Homo sapiens: one gene and its partner. The protein of the gene in region 1 interacts with the protein of each later gene in a biochemical or structural test. Each region holds a gene or a part of one and is shown in the gene's direction. Other genes may lie near its edges.

Region 1 (3,381 bases):
GGCCATATTTTAATATTTTAAAAATAAATACTGTTATTAAGCATATTATATTTCATTGATTAATACCCCTCTAATGTAAAAACTCCTTGATCCACAGATCAGGGCCAAGAAATACTTTCTTTCATGTTGGACTGTTGGGCTTCCTACCACTAGACAAATTGGAGCTCCCATGACCAACTTTCTTTCCTTCTGGTTTGCATCTTTACTGTGGTTTGCACATTTGTTGTTTTTGGTCTTAATATCCTGTGCTTTATGGAGAGCTGTCTCAGATCACTGGGCCAGAGCTCTGTGTGGGCAGGAACCATGTATTTGTATTTCACAGTTGCATGCTTAGAACCTAGCATAGGGCTGATCCCTAGAAGAGTCAATTAATGCATGAATGGGTGCATGCCTGTGTGGGATATATGCAAGATAGAAATAGATCCAGAACTTTAAAACTTCTTGGAAGAATGATGATGAGGGAACACATGATAGTCACAGGGGATCTGGAAGGGAATTAACATTATTGAGCACAGAGGATCTGGGAGGGAATTAACAGTATTGACTGTCACCTTGGGAAATAAGGGTTCTCTCCCCATTTTAACTCAGAGGCAAGGGAGGCTCAAGAGGGTTATTGTGAATTGCCTGTGGTCTCATAACTAGCAAGTAGGTGGTAGAGAGAAAATTCAGACCTAGGTTAGCTTGACTCCAAACATTGGGCCTCTAATCTACCAAAATTTGGTTCACTTTGAGAACCAGATTCTTTGAGAAGAAATAGGTGGTTTCATCCAGCCCACTGCCCTCAGAGAAGACCACATCGAAGCAGAGCCGTGGCTTGTTTCCACCCCTTTGTGGGTGACTCACTGATGTCTTTAGCTGCAGCCTTTCCACCGAGTCCCAGTGGCCCACTCAGTCTCTCTTCTAGGAGGGCTACTGGGCATCCATTCCAGAGGAAACAGATACCAACCAGGACTGTGGTTCTGTGCTGCAGCCTGTTTTGCCCCATCGTTTCCCACTGTGATGAAGGGCACTACCAGTCACTGATCTACCCAGATGAAGCTCGCTTCTTCCCTTTCGCTTATGCTCCACAGCCACTCCATCGGCAAGTCCTATAGGTTCTATGGTCAAGCATGTCCTGAAGCTGATCGCCATACCACCCTCAGCCGAGCTGCCCTCACCTCTCTCCTGCACCCTGCAGGATCCCCCATGCTATTTTCCCTGCCCTTCTCTTACCTCCCTGTTTTGTATTCTCCATAAGCAGCCAGAGTAACATTTTCCAGATGTAAACCAAACACACTCCTCACCCATCTCAAAACCTTCCAGTGTTTTGTCTTCATATTTAAAATAAAATCCAAGTCCAGGCACGGTGGCTCATGCCTGTAATCCCAGCACTTTGGGAGGCCGAGGCAGGTGGATCACTTGAGGTCAGGAGTTCGAGACCAGCCTGGCCAACATGGTGAAACCCCATCTCTACTAAAAATACACAAAATTAGCCAGGCATGGTGGCAGGCGCCTGTAATCCCAGCTACTCAGGAGGCTGATGCAGGAGAATTGCTTGAACCCAGGAGGCGGAAGTTGCAGTGAGCTGAGATCACGCCACTGCACCCCAGCCTGGGTGAAAGAGTGAGACTCCATCTCAAAATAAATAAATTAATTAAATTAAATAAACTCCAAAGCCCCATTGGCGCACTGACCTCACTTCCAACTGCTCTCCCTCTTGCCTGGGTCGCTGCAGCCACATAGAGCTTGCTGTCACTCCAGGGCACCAAGCTGGAACGTCCTCAGCACTGCACTTGCTACTGCCTCAGCCCAGACCACATGCAGACTTGTTCCCACGCTTCATTCTGGGTCCTGCCCTAGATAAGATGTGTTCGGTGAGGCATGCCCTGAGTCCAGCCAGTGAAGCTGTGGCCCCAGCACTCTCTCTCCCTGACCCTGCTTTGTTGCCCTCATAGCCCATAAGGTGACCTGAACTTGCAGCAAGCATTTATTTGGTTCCCTAGTGGTTGCCTGTCTTCCTCATTAGAAAGATAGCTCATAGGCTGGGCGCGGTGGCTCACGCCGGTAATCCCAGCACTTTGGGAGGCCGAGGCGGGCGGATCACGAGGTCAGGAGATCGAGACCATCCTGGCTAACACGGTGAAACCCTGACTCTATTAAAAATACCAAAAATTAGCCGGGCGTGGTGGTGGGTGCCTGTAGTCCCAGCTACTCGGGAGGCTGAGGCAGGAGAATGGTGTGAACCCGGGAGGCGGAGCTTGCAGTGAGCCAGGATCGTGCCACTGCACTCCAGACTCCGTCTCAGAAAAAAAAAAGAAAGTTAGCTCATGATAAGGCAGGCACTACTCACATATCGCTTGTGTCCCCAGCACCCAGACAGGGCCTGGCTCAGGTAGGGACTCAGTGAATAAATGAATGAGCACAGCTTGGTCCTGATTTTGACACTTTTCCTTTTTCAGTAAAATGCCTTACTTAAACACTTGAGTATAAAAGAAGTTTCTGCTTAAGGCAGTAAAGGGGACTGACTTGATGTTCTTTCTTTCTCACAGTTGCCCTCAAATTGGCTGTAGCCACACGGATATAAGAAAGTCAGATCTTATCCAGGATGAAGCACTTAGAAGGGCAATTGAGAACCATAACAAGAAAAGACATCGTCATTCCGAGTAGGAAAAGCCACCTGCCTGCAGGGACACCAGCAGCCTACCTCCTACCCCAGCTGTCTGTTGAGAGCAGTGCTGACCCCAGCAGTTAGGGACTGGCTGCATAGCATACTTGTTGGGGGTAAAACTTGTTGCTTTTATGTGTGCTTGAAAACATTTTTCAAAGTTACACAACAGAAATGCAATCATATTGTTTATTTTTAAGTGTTCTATAATGTTAAATAAAACTTTGATCATCTGCAGTGTCCTCCCTGCATGCCTCCTGATGTATGGATTGTTCCAGAGGTGCAGGCTTTTCCATTTCAAGGACATCAGACTGATTTTTATAATAGTTTTGACTAAAGAATGTCTTTCAGCCAGGTGCAGTGGCTCATGCCTGTAATCCCAGCACTTTGGGAAGCCGACGTGGGCAGATCACTTGAGGTCAGGAGTTCAAGACCAGCCGGGGCAACATGGTGAAACTCCGTCTCTACCAAAAATCCAGAAATTATCCAGGTGTGGTGGTGCGCACCTGTAATCCTAGCTACTCGGGAGGCTGAGGCAGGAGAATCACTTGAACCCAGGAGGCAGAGGTTGCAGTGAGCCGAGATCGCACCACTGCACTCCAGCCTGGGCGACAGAGCAAGCCTCTAAAAAAAAAAAAAAAAAAAAAAAAAAAAAAAAAAAAAAGAATGTCTTTCAAGTGATATTTGAAATTGAAACATATAAAAACACCCCTATTGGGAGGCATTTTCTATGAGTA
Region 2 (3,500 bases), on another chromosome or scaffold:
TGTAGACATGTAACAAAATTGCACTTGTGCCCTTTACATTTATATAAACATTTTTAAAAGTATTTAAGTTACATTTTGATCTTTACCAAAATTTACTCTTCAATTCAAGGGTTGTTTCTGTCTTGTACAAAATTGTATTGCATAGCTCTCTTTTTTTTTTCTTAAACTACCAAAGCAGAAAGGAGTTATCTAGTCTTAGATCCATTTTGAACTATGAAAAGATAAACGGTATTTTGACACTTACCTACATTAGTTAAAAGTGATTTTGCCTATTAAAACTTTAAGAAAGATCCAAATTATTATTATTATTATTATTATTTTTTTTTTTTTGCGACGAGTCTCGCTCTGCCGCCTAGGCCGCAGTGCAGTGGCATGATCTTGGCTCACTGCAAGCTCTGCTTCCCGGGTTCACGCCATTCTCCTGCCTCAGCCTCCTGTGTAGCTGGGACTACAGGCGCCCGCCACCACGCCCGGCTAAGTTTTTTTATTTTTAGTAGAAATGTGGTTTCACCATGTTAGCCAGGATGGTCTGGATCTCCTGACCTCGTGATCCACCCGCCTGGGCCTCCCAAAGTGCTGGGATTACAGGCGTGAGCCATCGTGAACGGCCCAAATGATTCTTAATTTTATGTCTCATTTGTTTGAATCATTGCTTCGTTACCCAGCAAAATAAAACAAATTAATTTATATAATTTTTATTAAAGCCTATCAAAATTATGGAATAGGCTTTTCTTTTCTCCCCCCCCCCCCTTTTTTTTTTTTTGAGACGAAGTCTCGCTCTTGTCCCCCAGGCTGGAGTGCAATGGTGCGGTCTTGGCTCACTGCAACCTTCGGCTCCTGGGTTCAAGCGATTCTCCTGCCTCAGCCTCCCGAGTAGCTGGGATTACGGGCTCCTGCCACCACACCCGGCTAATATTTTTTGTATTTTTAGTAGAGATGGGGTTTCGCCATGTTGGCCAGGATGGTCTCAAACTCCTGACCTCAGGTGATCCGCCCACCTCAGCCTCCCAAAGTGCTGGGATTACAGGCGTGAGCCACCGTGCCCGGCCAGAATAAGCTTTTCTTAAATCCTAATTACTTAAACTCTTAAAAAAATTTTTTTTCTGGCTGGGCACAGTGGCCCAGAGATTACAGGCGCCCGCCACCATGTCCAGCTAATTTTTGTATTTTTAGTAGAGTTGGGGTTTTACTGTGTTGGCCAGGCTGGTCTCCATCTCCTGACCTGAAGTGATCCACCCGCCTTGGCCTTTTAAAGTGCTGGGATTACAGGCGTGAGCCACCGCGCCTGGTCCCCAGGCCATTCTTTCTATTCTAAGTGTCTAGTCTAGTACTGGCATTGTAGTAGGCATCCATTAAGCTTTTTTTTGAACTAGATGATGATCAATATGAAGTTTTTTTATTATGACATTCTTACTAATTAAGTGCTTATTCTTAGTAATTTTCTTTGTCACGCTTTCAGGACTACAGGAATATGTGGAAGCTGTCTCTTTTCAACACTTCATCAAAACACGATCATTAATTAGTATGGATGAAATTAATAAACAATTGATATTTACGACTGAAGACAATGGGAAAGAAAATAAAACTGTGAGAATTTAAAATTTATTTCACATTTGTTATATAATTTATGTAACAGTATGACGATTCTAGTAGATTTACTGGCTTATGCTAAGATTGAGATGGGAATGTTCTTTCTAAAGTATGGTTTTGTAGAGTCTCAACTAGGAAATGGTCTTTTTAAATATTTCAGTTAGTGGATAGAACAAGAACAACTCTGGGCATATTGGGAAAGTAATGCTCTTTACCTAAAGCATTATGGAGTGCTTACTGTAAGTCCTCTTTTGGTTTTACTCTCTATTTTTCACTTGCCCTTTGTAAGCACTGTCTTATTTAATCCTTTTATTAACCATATGTGGTAAGCATTATTACTCTCATTTTACAGAGAAAGAAACAGACTTTTAGAGAGGTTAAGTAACTTGCCAGAAGCCACAACTAAAAAGTGTGGCAGAGCTAAGATTTGAAGTTAGGTATTTTGAATCCAAGCCTGTGCCCTTGTCCACTCTGCCAGCGCTTCTCACAGTGTGCTACAGGGATCCCTTGCATCAGGTACCTACCTCAAAGGGTTGTTTTAAAGGATTTGACTTAAAGGTTATTAATTAGGCAATATACAGCAGCACCTGACACGTAATATACATTATATACAGCACCTGACACGGAAGTGCTCAGTAGTTTGCCATTATAAAGTAGTTTTTATATAGTGAGAGCTGTTAATCATTTACTCAATTCATAATGCTTATATCTGAAATTTATGTAGCTTTTCTGAATTAAGAAAAACTTTGCAGTTTGACTTTTAAACAAATACTATTTTTTTCCTTCTGGGTTTCAAGATATAACAGGCAGTAAGGTAAGCTGTATTGACTATTTGATACTTTCTGAGATACCAGTACACTTAAAATTAAATATTTTAAAATAATTTATATTATTTAAATAATTGTTTAAATATTAAATTATTAAATTATTAATTTAATTTACTAAATATTAAATATTTAATTATTTTAAAAATTTTCTTTATTTTTTCTTTTAAAAATTATTTTTAAAAACACCATATATTAAGGATAGGTAGGCAGGAGATGGAAGACACTGTAGAAATAATATTTTCTTGAATATCAACTAAAATATTAATACAAATGAGACTAATTTGGCATGACAGGTATAACTTACTTTAAGGAAGCCATGTATTAACTTTAAGTTATATGAAGTGTATTAAGGAGGAAATTTATTTTGAGAAGTAAAATTTCTTCATATTTTTTATTCATATAGTGTAGACTGAATTACACAAAGAAGTAAAGTAGGTCTATTTGACCCTGCTTCTCACGTGATATTAGGGAAGTTACCACACTTTCCTTTAAAGTTCTCTGTGTATCAAAATGAAAATATTGGGGAAAAGGCCAGAAAATTGAGAGTCAAAGTACTGTTTTCAGGACTTAGGTACCAGATTATTTTAAGATTATGGGGCTATAATATTCATATACATGTTTCAAATTGTATAAGACTATGTTCATAAATAAGTTTTAGTGCTAAAGATGCTTGGTGCTGAAATTTCTGGGAATTTGATTGGGAAAGGTATTTTGCTCTGACTTGCCTGTTGAGAATATTGTCAAAACTATTTAATTTTTATTTTAAAAAGTTTTGTGAAAAATTTCAAACATGCAGAAAAATAGAATGGAAACATTAGTGCCACTAACTAGCTATCATATTCCCATAGCTCAACGTCATATTACCTGTGATGTTTCTCGGACCTCATTTCTCATGCTAAATGATGAGGACGTTGCACCAAATGGTCTCTGCAGAGTCCAAACAGTGCTAGGATTCAAGTATTAGATACATAGCAAAGAGTGATCTTAATAAAGCTGTCTCCCTTGTCTCAGCTTATATTTATGTAACTTCCTTTAAACTTTACTCAAAAGAATTATCTCATTAGTTCCTCAAATGCACAATTC

Evidence for each region.
Region 2: of the proteins of NSMCE2 (region 1) and TSNAX, one has a biochemical effect on the other in vitro, tested with the Homo sapiens proteins (one study listed by BioGRID).

The regions. Positions count from the first base shown.
Region 1 is NC_000008.11:125,364,240-125,367,620, forward strand, and holds the end of NSMCE2 (E3 SUMO-protein ligase NSE2), read left to right. Parts: intron 1-2,528; coding exon 2,529-2,646; 3' UTR 2,647-2,881; downstream 2,882-3,381. UniProt on the Homo sapiens protein: E3 SUMO-protein ligase component of the SMC5-SMC6 complex, a complex involved in DNA double-strand break repair by homologous recombination. Is not be required for the stability of the complex.
Region 2 is NC_000001.11:231,559,669-231,563,168, forward strand, and holds part of TSNAX (translin-associated protein X), read left to right. Parts: intron 1-1,459; coding exon 1,460-1,587; intron 1,588-3,500.